2 separate regions of the Homo sapiens genome follow, and region 2 is linked to region 1. A link means that fine-mapping ties the variant in region 1 to the expression of a gene that starts in the linked region. Tissue or cell type: CD8 T cells. Region 1 holds a variant in brackets; the other region holds the start of a gene. All regions are shown on one strand. Distances are between the middles of the regions.

What was found. PIP is the estimated chance that this variant, and not a neighbour inherited with it, causes the effect.
Region 2: TGFBR2 starts here. The variant in region 1 is fine-mapped to the expression of TGFBR2 in CD8 T cells (CEDAR, PIP 0.95). The same link has a PIP of 0.9 or more in B cells, CD4 T cells, monocytes and neutrophils.

Annotation. Positions count from the first base shown.
Region 1 is chr3:30,690,266-30,698,468 of GRCh38, reverse strand. TGFBR2 (transforming growth factor beta receptor 2) reads right to left here. Exons shown (of 7, transcript NM_003242.6): 7 at 4,327-7,049. The coding sequence ends at 6,870. Among named protein-coding and RNA genes, the nearest start is that of TGFBR2, 88 kb to the right of the region's middle. The variant G/A (reference allele first, on the strand shown) is at 4,805.
Region 2 is chr3:30,602,623-30,610,800 of GRCh38, reverse strand. It overlaps TGFBR2 (transforming growth factor beta receptor 2), which reads right to left and starts at 4,200. Exons shown (of 7, transcript NM_003242.6): 1 at 3,824-4,200. The coding sequence starts at 3,917. It overlaps LOC105377015 (translation initiation factor IF-2-like), which reads left to right and starts at 3,877. Exons shown (of 2, transcript XM_047449400.1): 1 at 3,877-4,655; 2 at 5,243-6,402. The coding sequence starts at 3,877. The coding sequence ends at 4,317. RefSeq lists a silencer at 4,027-4,126.

The DNA.
Region 1 (8,203 bases):
GTGCTAAGATGCTGAGTAACACATAGTTATTGTTTTCAAGATGCCAGCCGACCTTGGGTGATACACCACATTGCATTCAACTAATGTTTGATGGAGGAAATAAATATGGATAGATAAAATGGTTTGGAAGAGTAGACAGTTTTTTACTGACAGAGACCTGGGTTCAAGTTGTGTAAACCTGGATAATTTCCTTAATGGTAAAATGGAAAAAAGTAACACCTACCTTGTAGGGCTTCTAGGATGATTAGCATATATTTAAAATATAGGTCCCATATAAAGTACATAATTTCAAATGCCTGTAATGTTACTAATAAATGAGGAACTAATGTTCCAGCAAAGATTATACCTTGCATCCTTGCATTAATATTTTAGTACGTTTTCCATGTGTTTTTACTTATTTCATTTTTCTCCAGCTTTATAACGTAGGCAGGGCAGGGATGATTCTCACATGGAACAAAAGAACAAGACACTGAATCCATAAAAGAAGAGGATGGTAATGGAGCTAGACAACCCCCTAGATTTCCTGTCTCACAGGGCCCTGTATTTCCCACCACAGCCATGCCATTCACCTGGTTGAGAAAGCCCTTCAAGGATAAAGGGTGGTCTACTCACAATTACAGTTTAAACATGACTCATCTTCCTTAACAGTCAATTTTACCCAAAAATTTGGGGAACAATATATCCTTAAAATACTGCAACAACACAGCTTCACTTTAAAGAATGCAAAAACTGAATTATAATAATGAATACTTATGTGCATCAGTCTCTGTTCTAACCATTTAAAAAACCAGTATTTCATTTAACTCTTACAACTTTCCCAAGTAGATCTCATCATTATCCTCCTTCTACACATTAAGAAACCAGGAAATAAAAACAGTTAAAAGACTTACACAAAGTTACAGTTAGTGGCAGAGCTGGGATTTGAACCCAGGAGATTTGGCTCTAGAGGTTCCAATTTTAACCACTTTGTTATCAATGTTTAGACAATTTATTATGAATATTTTAATGGACCTAGGGTACCAGGGCCACAGTTATTTTATTCTATTGTCTATCATTGTGGGCATAGGTCAGGGGAAGACACAGGAGAATTTCAGAAGCACTGTGCTACACAGGCAGTTTACAGAAATGATTTTTAAGGATCAATTGTGTGTGTGTGTGTGTGTGTGTGTGTGTGTGTGTGTGTAGAGAGAGAGAGAGAGCATGAGAGAGCAAGAGAGCAAGCATTTCACAGTGTGTGCAATTTTAGCTTAATTAGAATAGGAAGACTATTAACAAGTTATTTTTAAATGCACCAAAGATCAGGAGGCGTATTAGAATTAAATTACACCATGTGAGGCTGATTGGCAGCCCATGTAATGTGGGCAAGTTCACAATCTTGTCTTTTATCAGCACAGTTTGCAAAGTAGGCCTGAAAGGCATGGCCCCAAACCCATAGAGGGTGGAGCTATAGTTATTCAAGTAAAAAAAAAGAAACTAGTTGGAAATGTGATAAGCAATGATTAGCTAACCTATTTCAGGAGGAAAATGAACAAAATGAGCAGATGCCGACTGTAGTGGCTTTAGTGAAAAAGGATAGATACACTTGTTTAAATGAAAAGTTCTCTGTCACCTGAAGACAGAATTTCCCTTAGGACCAGACCATTAGTGTGTCATTTGCATAGAGAGCTTAAAACAAAAACAGCCACCACAAATAGAAACTCCTGGGCACAAATATAGACTGCATTCAAAGGATGCTGACTGGTGCAAGGGACTGAGTCCATGCTGAGGGCACTTGGAGACCAATTGCCAGTTGGGAATGTTCCTGACCTTGCAGTAGCAAGAACTAAAATAACCCCAGCAAAACAAAGCGTGGAAGAAGGGAGAGGGGTTAGAAGACCTTGGCTCCTGTTTTGGCTGAAGCTCTTGGGCTGCAGCCCGGAGCCCATGTGCATTTGAGGAATAACTTTTCCTCCCTGGGTTCCCTCATGGGTAACTCCCTCCTCTCCAGTGCTAACTGCATCTGCCTCCTCATTTTGGACTGTTGAATCAAAAACCCTTGAGCTCTCCAGAGGCTCCACGTTGTTACCCCCTAACTCCAGCTTTATCTTGTGTTCAAGGTGGGGGTTTGATCCCTGGAGTCCAACTGCTTCAGTTCAAATTCTCATGCTAATGATTGCGACCCTTAGCTAGACCTTGCTCTCTGCCTCAGTTTCCTCCTCTATAAGATGGAGGTAAGATACTTCGCAGGGTTGTTGAGAGGATTTAAGCAGATAAGGTAAAACAGAGAATAGTGTTTGGCACTTACCAAGTACTCAATAAATGTTAGGAATTAATATGAATTTGCCTCCTTGGGTAGAGCTCCCTAACTTCAATTATTCCTATTAACACCTCCTGTAGTTGTCATGCATGAGTGTCGTCTACTTAATGTATTTTAATAATCAATTCAAGTTTTTAAACTCAGCCATATTTCAAGCAATATTATTTGTGAAAGCCCAGGCTGTGTTAATGATTTTTTTCTAATGTATGTTAATGATCCACTAAAATAAAGGTGGATCTATTTTTATAAAGGTGGCACAATCTTAAATCATCTCAGATACCAGTACACATTTCACACATTAGGAAACACAGTCTACACACATTCACTCATCTTCCAGTTGTTCTCTCAGCAAGCATGTAGACAACACTTACCATGTGAATGGAGAGGAAGTCAGGCAATAGAAATGGAAAAGCACCTTTTCTGCCTCCACTGAGCAGAGACCCAGAGAGAGATGAGAACAATGATCCAGTAGCAGAGCTTTTCTTCATGGGGTAGCCTTTTGGTCCTGCTTGGGCAGGTCAGTTCCCTCAGGAAACAGCAGGAAATAAAGAACCAAGCATGTCAGGTGTTCCAAATTCCAGTTCCAAGACAACTTGGCCCTGCATCCAGATTCTACATGGTGAGACCCTGGGCTTCTTATCTGAGCTCTCTGACCATCTGTTTCCTCATCTGTTAAATGGGCATAGTATGTACCTCACCGAGCTAGTGGAGGATTCAATCCGATGGCATAGCGAGTACTCAGTGAATGAGCGCTCTCCCCCGATTATGTGTTCACACAGGACCCACGTTTCCTGTCCTGCAGACCTGGGGACTGTACCCATTTTCCTCTGTTGTAAATGCTCTCTAGGTTTGTACCTAAAAATCTGCTTCTTTGCCTAAGCAGTCCTTGGCATACTAAACCAACTTAACACTGGCCAGCATGTAGTGAAGGCTTTCCAAAAAGTTCAAGACCCATCTTCAAAAGCCTAATGTGTCTTCTTACCACAATTTTATCTTGTATAGGATGAGGCTTGTAAAATCTCATTTTACACATGATGAAACTGAGGCATGGAGAGGTTAAGTAATTTGCCCAGATCACAAAGCTGGCAAATAGAGGAGCAGGTAACCTCTACAGTTAGTAACCACTAAAATTGCTACTAATAAAGACAAGACTATAACTAAGGCCCACAGTAGGACCACATCATCTAGCTCAGTGATTCTCCACTGAGAGGAACTTTGTCTTTCAGGGGACATTTGGCAATGTCTGGAGAAATTTTTGGTTGTCACAGCTGTGGGGTGGGTGCTACTGGCATCTAGTGGGTGGAGGCGAGGGATACTGCTAAACATCCCACAGTGCACAGGACGGCTTCCCTCCCTCCCAACACACAATTATCCAATGCAAAAATAAGTCAGCAGTGCTAAGGTTGAAATACCCTGGTGCAGGCACTATGACATTAACTATTTAGAACCCAGTCGATAACTAAGAAGAAGCTACAGAATCTCTCAGATTCCAAAACAGGTAGCATGAAGTTCAGGCAGAAAATCTCGTGCACTTTGTCACAAGAAATGACCAGGAGACAATTTCCTAAGGCATATTCATCTCACCATTCATGTAAATCAATTAAAAGCACCAAATGGATGTGGTATCTGGGTAGAAAAGGGAAGCATGGAATATGACAAGAGTCAAGAAGAGAGCCAACAGCTTGCTAGTATGAGGAATAGAGAAAATAGAAGAAGCGGTAGAAACACTGGCTGTGAAAATCCCTGCAAGAAACAGCCATGTGGATAGAGGCAGCTCCTGAGACTGTGGGAAGAGGTCTTCTGGGCATTCAGAGGGACATCATGCCAGGACGCCAGCATGGCAGGCAGGCCATGAGCAGCATCTGCTTCATCTCATATTACTGAGCTTCTGTGACTTTTTTTTTTTTTTTTTTTTTTTTTTAAGGACTGTGAGACTGTCAGTTGAGAAAGACAGTATGAAAAAGTTGGAGATTATTTACTTGGTGACGTTTTCTGCATAAATTGCAAAATAACCAAATGAGGCAAATGGATTTAGCTACTAGGAATGGGAACAGGAGGCAGGATGCTCACCTGAGTATTTTGCTTTATTCAATCTAATAAACATTTTATTTATGTAAAAGACAAACAATGCATAGAATAAAAATAAGTGCTTGAGACTTTTGATATAAAAAGAGTATATAGCATTCACATTCCTATTTTAATACATGAGTACAGCTGAAGTGTTCCATAAAAGAATAAAACTTTCCCTTTATGTATAGTAGTGAAAAAAGTCAGTATTTTTAGGAACTACAGAATGTTATTCCTTGGTCTTTTTTCTTGAATAAGAAAAAAAAACATAAACAAAACAAGCCACAGTATCCTCTGACACTACATTCCAGTTTATGCTGATAACCCAGAAGTGAGAATACTCTTGAATCTTGAATATCTCATGAATGGACCAGTATTCTAGAAACTCACCACTAGAGGTCAATGGGCAACAGCTATTGGGATGGTATCAGCATGCCCTAC[G/A]GTGCAAGTGGAATTTCTAGGCGCCTCTATGCTACTGCAGCCACACTGTCTTTAACTCTCAGCCCACCCACACTGAGGAGGGTGCCTAGAGGTTCTATTTCCAAACCTTTGCATGTATCTTAAAAATCTCAATAAAATGAGACCTTCCACCATCCAAACAGAGCTGATATTCTCACTACCAGTCCCTCTCTAATATTCCTATTTGGCTGAAAATAAGTAGCTTCAAAAAGTTTTAAAAAAGAGATTACTTGCAGCATTAACACTTCTTTGTTGATTAACAAGTTTCCTATGGAGTTTTAAAGCTCATACTTTGTTCTTGTCCTTGTGGACACAAATTTTCTAACTGCAAATGGGACCTTTGTGTCCCACATTCAAATCCTCTCTAGTAATTTCTGCAAAGGTTGAGAAGGCTGGCATGATGGAGAGAACGGTAACCATGAGGAAAGCTTCTTGGAGTAAAGCACTCCTCTCTCCAATGCAGAGGGTAAAACTATTAACATATAAGCAAAAGAAACTTGGGCTAACTGAGACCCTTAAAGGAGTTCCCCTTTAGTCCAATAAAAGGCCAACTTCAAATCTTAACACCAGATAAGGTAGTCAAAATCATATTATATACCCAGAGAATGACTGCTTGAATGGACATTTCTTACAAGGGACCTTGGTTAGGTGCAGATTTAATTCCTAGACTGGGGTCCAGGTAGGCAGTGGAAAGAGCTAATGTTTACAGTGAGAAGTGAGGCAGCTTTGTAAGTGTCTCCACACCTTCACATTTTGTGAACGTGGACTGGAGATAACTGAAAACCATCTGCTATCCTTACCTGGGGATCCAGATTTTCCTGCAAAATCTCCAAATATTTATAAAGTGGCTTCACTTTTTGAAACGCTGTGCTGACCAAACAAAACATATGTTTAGAGTGCCTGAGGTCATAGTCCTGACAATGATAGTATTGTGTAGTTGAAATCCTCTTCATCAGGCCAAACTGTGCTTGAGCAATCAGGAGCCCAGAAAGATGGAACCCATTGGTGTTTGTATAGAAAACTAGAAAATCAAGTCAAGTGTAATGAAAAAGTAAACACGATAAAGCCTAGAGTGAGAATTTGCTCCTTTTTAGAAAAGGATGAAGGCTGGGAGCAGAGAATAGTAACATAAGTGCAGGGGAAAGATGAAAAAAAGAACAATTTTTCATTAGTAGATGGTGGGGCAATCGCATGGATGGGGACATCTGTTCTGATTTTTCTGCAACCCATGAAGGTAAAAAGTGGGGTTCAAAACATTCAAGGTATTAAAGATGGGGTAGAGTTTCTAAACTAGGTTGAGGGAGAGTTTCTAAACTAGCCCCCCAGATTTGGGGCTTGGAGCTTAAATGAAAAGTCCAGGAGAAATAAGGGCACACAGGAACCCCGGGAACACTGGTCCTCAAACAGTGCCACTGTACTTAGTTCCATGGCCAGAAGAGAAGTGCTAGGCAGGGAATGATTATTTTGCAAAAGCAAGTGCAATGTGGTCATAGCTGGCTGTGAGACATGGAGCCTCTTTCCTCATGCAAAGTTCACTGTTTTACAGTCAGAGAACCACTGCATGTGTGATTGTCAAATGCTAATGCTGTCATGGGTCCCTTCCTTCTCTGCTTGGTTCTGGAGTTCTCCAATAAAACCAATTTCCTGGGAATATTTGATGTTTTTCCTTGTCTCTTTTCAAGGTATGGCTATATATATAGAGCTATAGACATATATAGATATATATATATATATATAAAACATAGCTATTCATATTTATATACAGGCATTAATAAAGTGCAAATGTTATTGGCTATTGTAAAAATCAATCTCATTTCCTGAGGAAGTGCTAACACAGCTTATCCTATGACAATGTCAAAGGCATAGAATGCTCTATGTCACCCACTCCCTGCTGCTGTTGTTTCTGCTTATCCCCACAGCTTACAGGGAGGGGAGTGACCCCCTTGGTTTTCCAGGAAGCATCAGTTCAGGGGCAGCTTCCTGCTGCCTCTGTTCTTTGGTGAGAGGGGCAGCCTCTTTGGACATGGCCCAGCCTGCCCCAGAAGAGCTATTTGGTAGTGTTTAGGGAGCCGTCTTCAGGAATCTTCTCCTCCGAGCAGCTCCTCCCCGAGAGCCTGTCCAGATGCTCCAGCTCACTGAAGCGTTCTGCCACACACTGGGCTGTGAGACGGGCCTCTGGGTCGTGGTCCCAGCACTCAGTCAACGTCTCACACACCATCTGGATGCCCTGTAGCGGGAAAGAGATCCAAAGGGCACCATGAGTTGGTGGGCTCCGCGGAAGGCAAGGTGGCCTGCTGACCTTGTTGCTATAGTGAGTGCAAGCAGGGTCCAAAAGTGCCTGTGCATTTAACATGTGCTGACTGAGTGCCTGCTGCTGCAGGCCAGCCAGTTCCATGTGGAAAGGGTGGTGGGGGGTTTGTGCTGGTGGCAGCTGTGCTCAAAACCTACCATACTTTTTGGCTCTGGTGCTATCTGATCACAATAGGTCCTGACAGCACAATGATCCTCTGCTGGGCTTCTGGGGTACACTAACACTCCCAACACCTGAAAATTCCCCATGTAGTGGCCCTTAATATCATTTCAACACCTTTCTATTTAGAGAAGTTCTCGCTTCACAGCAAAATTGAGTGGAAAGTACAGAGAGTTTTCACAAAACCCCTTCCCCATAAAGGCACAGCCTTCTCCACCTTGACATCATGCATGCATCTATGAGGTACATTTGTTATAACTGATGAACTAACACTGACGTATCATTATCAATCAAATTCATAGTTTACATTAGGGTTCACTCTTGGTGTTGTATATTCCAGGGGTTTTGACAAATGTATAATGACATGTATCTACCATTATAGTATCATGCGGAATAGTTTCTCTGCCCCTCAAATTCCCTGCATTCCACTTATTCATCCCTCCCTCCATTCCCCTAAATTTCTGGCAGCCACTGATTTTGTACTGTCTCTGTAGTTTTTGCCTTTTCCAGAGTGTCATATAGTTGGGTCATATACACTGTTCTATTTTAACAGGGCTGATTACCCCCGTCAGAATTGTATGCAGGCATTAGCATGGTTTCATTTTCTATAGGCCACACATTTTGTAGAGTGATTCAGTAGCAGCTTCTACGAGCTGCCAAGGATGACCTCTGGGATGCTCCATTCCTCTCCAACAACATTGGGTTGAACCCTGTGAAACAGCTGCCTATGTGGGTCAGGCATGCTTAACTCTATGCCATTTCCTAGGGTTCACCCTAACCGAATCAAGCTCCCATCCAAGGAGACCATCCAGGAGATCCTGCCCAGGAAGGTGGCAAGAGTTTTCTCTCACTGGCTTAATTTTTATTTTGCATTGCAAATATTTTTGTTATCATTTCAAATCCTTTTTGGA
Region 2 (8,178 bases), 88 kb after region 1:
CCCAATTAAGGAGTTAATAGTAATAACAGAAGCTGATATTTATTGAGCATTTACTATGTTGCAGGCACCATGTTAAATACTTTAAAACAATATTTTATTTAATCCTCACCATAACTCCATAATCCTCATTTTACAAATGAGACCAGGGATGACTAGTAGGTAAAGCAACTACAACAGGCTACACAGCCAGTACATGGCAAGTGGGTCTGGAACCCAGGACGGCCTGATTCCAAAGTTTATACCCTACACTCTTCTACCACCAGCCTATCCTCAAAGAGAGCACTAAATGAACGCATTGGGTCCATCATGCTGGCTATGGAATGGAGAATGCAATTAAAGGCTGCCCAACTGGGGCTCCGTGACAAGGCAGGGATAGGAAAGAGACAACAAATTGATTCAAAAATACATTCAATGGGACCTAGAAGGAAACATTCAACATGCACATCCTCCTAGTGCATACAACAACAAAAAAAAATGAGGCTTTTGAAAATGAGGTGTAGAAAATAAAACACCAGTATTCCATAATGCTTTCAAATATAAACAGTTAAAACACGTATCCTTTTCTTTACTTATAACATGCTCCCAGCTGTTAAATTCAATGGCAAAGACCAGGTCTGTCTTATTCATCTGAGATGGTATCCCAGGTCTGAGCATCCTGCCTGGCAAGAGATACTCAATAAATATGGTTGAAAAGGTAGAAGAAAAAATGCCCAGTTTTTGCAATGATATCAGAGGTGCCTTATTGATCCAGAGTTAAAAACTAACCTTACTGAAAAAATTAAAAAGTCATGTTCATAACTGAGTAGAAAACATGTAGTAGTTATGTTGACTACATAGACAACAGTCATCATTAGGGAATGCTACATTGAAAAGAAGGCAATGAGTTCAAAATGTGATTAGTATTTTGTATAAATCATAACTCATTAAAAATAAGATGTTGAGTGGCCTAAAGGTGGAAATGTGTTTTTATGAGGCGGAAAAAAAGCACGAGTAGACTGAAGATCAGATTTGGGGCCTAATGATGTCTAGTCTCTTACCCTGACAAAATAAGCAGGTTATTAAAGTGATGTGAAGAACCTGATCACTATGACACTTTTACAAATTCTTTGTCCTCAATAAGAATCTATCTACTTCCAGGAACCTGAAAAGTCATATTTTTCAGACCTGAAGAGTTATTGTGCACTTTACAGTTTTCCCCAAAAGAGTCATTTCTTAATTTTGATCATTTAGGAAGAGTGAATCTATTAAGTCAAAAACGAAGAAAAAAAAACTTTCTATTTCTTAGTGAAATTTGTTCTTTTATTTAAATCCTTTGCATACTACTAAACAGAAGTACAGAAGCTACTAAACAGAAGACAGATTTTTGGGCCTTTTTAGGTGACGTAAAAGGAGCTTGTTGTTTATTAAACAATCTCATTACCTGATATATTATCTTGCATTAAGATATTTTGAAAAAATGTTTTCAGTTTACCAATTACGTTAGAGAAATTCTGAAACTATTTACTTACATGAAAAATTAAAATGTAAGTAGAATTAGGTTTCTCGTCTTCAATATATCTGTCTTCAACCATTGGCCAACTTTGAAAATTTAATTTGAATCAAATGAATACAAATTCAAAATGATTCATTAATTCAACCATTTTGAAACTTCAGTTCTATAAAAATATGAAATCTGTGGGCCTTGTAAAACTGTCTAAATACCCAAATAAAAAGCCACCACGTTTTTAAGCTAATTGTTTAAAAGTGTGTATATTGATGAAATGAAAGTGACTCGTGAACTATTGGGTCTGGAATTTGCAAATCATAAACCTTATCCTTGTAAACAGAACCTAACTAACAACATCAGGGCCTGCTAATTTCCTTCTTTTATAATCTGGAACAAAAGTTGTAATGATTTTTAACATCCACAGAAAATTAAGGGTGCCATTTTAAATATTTATTAGCAAAATGTCACTTAGGTTTTAAAAGTCTGGAGGAAAATGAGAGACAATTGAACATTCTGGTACTGCAATGCAGGAAAAACGCCAAGAACGAAACACTAAGATTTTATTAAAACCATAGGACTCAAATGTGTGTCAAGACTTTTTGCTTGCAATAGTGCCTCTTCCTAATTTGATTAAAAGCTTCCATCTCCATGCCACCTTCAATGTATGCCATAATTTTTAAAAAGTTCCCAATCCACTTCAAACACTCTAAAATTTACAACTGACCGTGATGCGCATTTTTTCTAGACAAACCTAAAGGTAAATCTGCCCATGTCCCTGGATAAATAAAATGAGTGCCTCCGGGTGATGTGGACTGTCAACTCCTCTACATTTCATCCAAAGTCTACATGGGTCATCTCCAAGTCACCAGAAGAGCCAGGGGAAAGGAGGGGAGGGGCACGATACGTAAGATGTTAAACATGAAGATGATGTAAAATTACCCAGATTCAAGCTGGCCATTTTACAGATGAGGAAACTAAGGCCCAGAAAAAGCTCTATGACTTGCCCAAATACTCGGTTACCCAGACCACAGCTGCAGATACTGTTATTTGGATCATAGCTGCAAAAAGTCTAACTTTTGGCCGGGCGCGGTGGCTCACGCCTGTAATCCCAGCACTTTGGGAGGCCAAGGTGGGCGGATCACGAGGTCAAGAGATCGAGACCACCCTGGCCAATATGGTGAAACCCCGTCTCTACTAAAAATACAAAAATTAGCTGGGCGTGGTGGCACGCGCCTGTAATCCCAGCTACTCGGGAGGCTAAGGCAGGAGAATCGCTTGAACCCAGAGGCAAAGTTGCAGTGAGCCGAGATTGCGCCACTGCACTCCAGCCTGGTGACAGAGCGAGACTCCGTCTCCAAAAAAAAAAAATCTAACTTTTGAAGTCTCAGAGGTTTTACACTTTCCATAACAAATAGTTAAGAACCCCCATTCCTGCATGCATATATATATTAATATTATATATATTTATATATATAATTATATATATATTTATATATATATAATATATATATATATTTTTTTATTTTTATTTTTTCCTTAAAAACCTTCAGAGACAGCGATCAGGTGGGTAGCCTAGTTAGGATTTTAACCCTTCGGTTTCCAACAAACGATAATTGCATAGAACCATCAACTCCCTGAAGACAGGACTATCTTGTTCCAGGCAAAATCTACAGCCTCTAGCACCCAGTAGGCATTCAGTGAGGGATTCTCGGTTTCACCTGAGCATCTCCACTCCCTATCCATCCATGCCAAGGCGTCAGTGGAGCCAGCTAACTTTCTTTTGGAAATCGATTATTTTCTTGAAACTTGTTTCCAAAAACTCCGGGCCAAGAAGCCGGCCTGAGGGAAAGCGTGGCCGTCTCCAGGAGCTAAGGACTGAGGAGCTGGCCTTTTGAACGGGTGGCTCAGAAAGAGCTGGGTGGGCACGCGGCATCGCCATGGGCGGAGTGGCCCAGGTGCGCTGGCTGCTTTGGCAGCTCAGGCTGCCGCTCCGGGCCGCTGCTCCCCGGCCGCCTTCAGATAACCAACTTCTCAAACTTCCCTTTCCGGGGGTGGGGGCTCGCCTCGAACGCGGCCAACACAACGCCTTTCCTGCTCGCACAAAGGGGACCAAACGTGCCCCGCGCCCCTTGCAACTGAACTTTCCTTCTCTTTTTCAAGAAAAACTCACAATCCCTGCAGCTACGGGAGTCGGGCTGCGTGAGTGTCGCGGGGGAAACTTTCCTCGTTTCCGCCCGGGGGCCGGGTTGCCGGGCCCGACTGTCAAGCGCAGCGGAGAGGCGGGGACCCCAGGAAGACCCCCGGCGCCCCGCCGAGCCCGGGCTGGGGACCACTCACCCGACTTCTGAACGTGCGGTGGGATCGTGCTGGCGATACGCGTCCACAGGACGATGTGCAGCGGCCACAGGCCCCTGAGCAGCCCCCGACCCATGGCAGACCCCGCTGCTCGTCATAGACCGAGCCCCCAGCGCAGCGGACGGCGCCTTCCCGGACCCCTGGCTGCGCCTCCGCGCCGCGCCCTCTCCGGACCCCGCGCCGGGCCGGCAGCGCAGATGTGCGGGCCAGATGTGGCGCCCGCTCGCCAGCCAGGAGGGGGCCTGGAGGCCGGCGAGGCGCGGGGAGGCCCCCGGCGGCCGAGGGAAGCTGCACAGGAGTCCGGCTCCTGTCCCGAGCGGGTGCACGCGCGGGGGTGTCGTCGCTCCGTGCGCGCGAGTGACTCACTCAACTTCAACTCAGCGCTGCGGGGGAAACAGGAAACTCCTCGCCAACAGCTGGGCAGGACCTCTCTCCGCCCGAGAGCCTTCTCCCTCTCCTCGACGTCCAGCCCCTAGCTCTCTCGTAGCTGCCAATCATGTTTCCTAGACCAGCCCCTCCGAGAGCTTTGGCCGACTTTCAGCTGCCCCTCACCGCCCTCCCACACCACTCAGGAGTTCCTCGCTCCAAGTATTTACTCAAGAATGACTAAGTGCACACAGTTCACAAAGTAACAACAGAAAACGTCCACGTTTTCCCTAGTAGATCAGAACATCTGCCGCCTCCCCTCAGCTTTCTTCAGATTGCTCCTAGGTGCTTTAGAGATGCGTTTTCAAATTGCAAGTTGAGATCCAGGAGTGAATACTCCAATCTATTGAGTCGCGAGCACATTTCTTTCCCAAATAAAATAGTAACGGTAAATTCTACTTCATTAAATTTGTGCTTCAGTTGTGTCTATATGCATGTATGTATGTGCATACACTGTCAAGTTGTAAAATGTTTTTCTTTAGGTCGAAGTCTAGAGGTTTTTCTCAAGTTTTAATGTACATATTGATCACCTGGAAATCTTATTTAAAAATGCAGATTCTAATTCAGTAGGTCTAGGAGGCAGGCAGAGATTCTGCATTTCTAATGAGCACCTGGATAGAGCGTCCCATTTTGCACCGCCTCTTCCCGGGACTGAGTCAGTGAGTAATTGTAAATGATCACCTATCACGAAGTGATAGTGGTGGGAAATGTAATTTTCAGAATGTATAGAGTATAGCAGAAACTGTAAAATTAAAAGTGGGTTGGGAGTCACCTGAATGCTTGTGCTTTTATTCCCTTAATGCAGGTGAAGAAAGAGAATACTTACCCTCTCATGTGCAAACGGGGTAACATGGGAGCAGAACAGTATAAACTTTCAAATTTCCTTTCTTGCTAGGGCAACCAGATTTGCCCAAGACATTCCTGGTGTACATGTTTTGTAGTTTAAATATTAATAGAACCCCCTTTCTCTTTCAGATATGTCCTGATTGGATAATAAACTATGTGATCAACCTACTTCCCACTCTCAAAGATATGATTCTGTACAGCCCTCTGGTCAGTAGATCTTCTAGCAATTCATTTAATGAATTCCTTTACCTGAGAGGAAGATTGCAGAGGCAAGGGTTTGTGCCAGGGTCTCCAGGGAATAAAGGTAAATAGCCCTCCCCCAAACCCAACTCCCAAATCTTTCCTGTCATTCTAAGTGTTCATTTGCTTCATCCTGGAATTTTAACTCATGCTCCACCTAGCACCCAAGCTGCCTCTGGATGTTTTGCCACTTCCCAGTACTCATGTTGAAGATGCAGAAAGTGCAGTGAAATCAGGAGGGCTAGGCATCTTCTTTCCCACCAATTAATTGCCTTGCCAAAGCTGGAGTGACTTTGTCAATGGAGGAAGATTGAGTTCCAAATCTTCTCCCTATTCCCTCTTCTGCCACCAGCCCATGCCACTGCCATGGCTTGTGTAGGAGTCTCCCACGAGTCACCCTCAGCCACGGCCGTTCTGGGCTCTTTCACTCAGTTTCTCAAACGAGAGCTGAATTCAGCTTTTCAAAATACAAAACTAGTTATACCAACCCTCTGATTAAAATCATTTAATGGCTTCCCACTGCTCTTGAGATAAAGAGAAGATAAAAACCAGATCCTTGAACGTGTCTTCAAGCCTCCAACTCTCCCGTAAACTTTCATTTGGCTTCTCCTTGCTTACTGAAAGCCTTCTCCAAATTTCGTGAATATGCCTCTGTAATCCTCCTACCCTTTATGCTTAGAGCCTTCCCCAGTGTGGACTTCCTTCCTCTGACCTTTTTTTCTTCACCCAGCCAACTCCTGGTCTTCGTGGATTGAATCATAACTTCTTTGATGGGCAAGCTTTCCCTCACCTCCATGAGTAGATCTTGTATTACACGTTCTCTTGGCACCATATGCTTTTCTTTTAACAGCTGTAACTTTATAATTATTTGTGTCATTCTTTAATTTATATTTCTATCCTCCACTCAACTCCAAATTTCTTGAGGGCAGGTATTATGTATCTTTCCCTCCACTTACTATTGTGTCCCTAAGCATCAAACACATAATCGATGTTTAATAAATATTTGTTGGATGAATGAATGAATCAGGCAATAAAGATTTAGAAGAAAATTGTATTTGATTGTTCTAGTTGCTTCATAACTCTGGAGAAAACATTGTTACCGAATATTTGAGATATAAACAGACTACATTTTAGCCGAGAATGATGTCACCACTACTTCCTTTTCTTAAGAATGGAGAAGTATGTGGGTTTCTTTCTTCTTCTTTTTTTTTTCCTACATTTGCCCAAGTTCCTCCAGATAGCAAACATGTACTTTCTTTCTCCTGAAAACACAATGTGGCAAATAAATGTCCAATAGATTCCAAAAGCTTTGTTTTCCTTAATTATCACAAAGATGTTTTACATTGTTGGAGGCTAGATATTTAAATCTATGGTGGAATGTTTAACTGGTGGTCTTTGCCATGATACATCATTAATGTTGATTTTAATTTTGTTTGCCCTTAACATTTCTGATTTAATCTCCAGTCTCCTGTGAAATTGAGAAGAATCAGAATTCAGCATTGCCAAGTGCAAGCTAGCCTTTTGAAAATCATCATAATAAAAATAATAGATGTGTAAACTCATGCATATTGCAATTTGATAATTTTAAAAATTCATCAGGCTGAGTGCAGTGGTCCACACCTGTAATCCCAGCACTTTGGGAGGTCTAGATGGGAGGATTACTTGAGCCCAGGAGTTCGAGACCAGCCTAAGCAACATAGTGAGATTTCATCTTTACTAAAAAAAAAAAAAAAAAAAAAAAAGCCAGGCATGTTGGCATGTATCTATAGTGCCAACTACTCAGGAGGCTGAGGTGGGAGAATCACTTGAGCCCAGGAGACGAACGCTGCAGTGAGCCATGATTGTGCCACTGCACTTCAGCCTAGAAGACAGAATGAGACCCTGTCTCAAAAACAAAAAATAAATAAAAGAAAAAGAAAAAAAAATTGTCATGATGCCCTTCCTTTTGAAATTCTTGTTGAAAGGGATGTCTGATACCCTTAATCAAGACATCATTTTCACACATAGTTGTATATTTGGCTTAGTATAATATTTTGTGTATTCACATAAGCAGTTAATATATACATGTAAAAAACTGGGCCATTTGCAAATGGGAACAAAAAAATAATAGCCCGACTCAGGGTTTAAAAAACAAGGAAGGTAACGTTTAAGCCCTTAATGAGTTGAAAAACAATAAATATCAACTTGAACAGAAATTTTAAAAGCTGACAATCTATTTTACCAGCTTTTTAAACTCTGCACGCACACACAAACACACACAATTGAACTGAATCAAATTGTGGTTTATTTAAACGTTGGGTTTCTCAGTTGTGATGAGAGAAGAACTTCCTACTCCCCTGAGCTTTGTGACATGCAGCTGTTGAGGTTACTGTCAGCTAGAGCAGTTAACAGGGAGATTCCTCTCCTTATAAATTAACCAGCCTCATTCTCAGCTCTTATCTCTTGACCAATTTTCCTTTTATTGTGAAGCAAACCAATAAGCACTGAGACTGTAGTTAATTTGTGAGGGTCATCCACCCTTTGTGGGTCATCCATGATGCTACCTCCTCCAGGAAATATTTTGTGATGCTTCACCTACTGTGATCACTCCTTTCCCAGGGATAACCCAGGGAACATTTCGTTTATTTAGCCTTTTTTTAAAAAAAAATGTTTGCCCCATTCTAACATGGAGTACATTATTGTTATTTATTTGCTTTTTAGAATTCTACCCTAATGATTGTAAAGCCCTTAAAAGCACAAAATATTCCTTTTTCAATGTAGAACCACACTCCGTGCTCTACAGATAATCAGTATTCAGTGTGTGTTTCTTGTCTTCAATAGAGAGA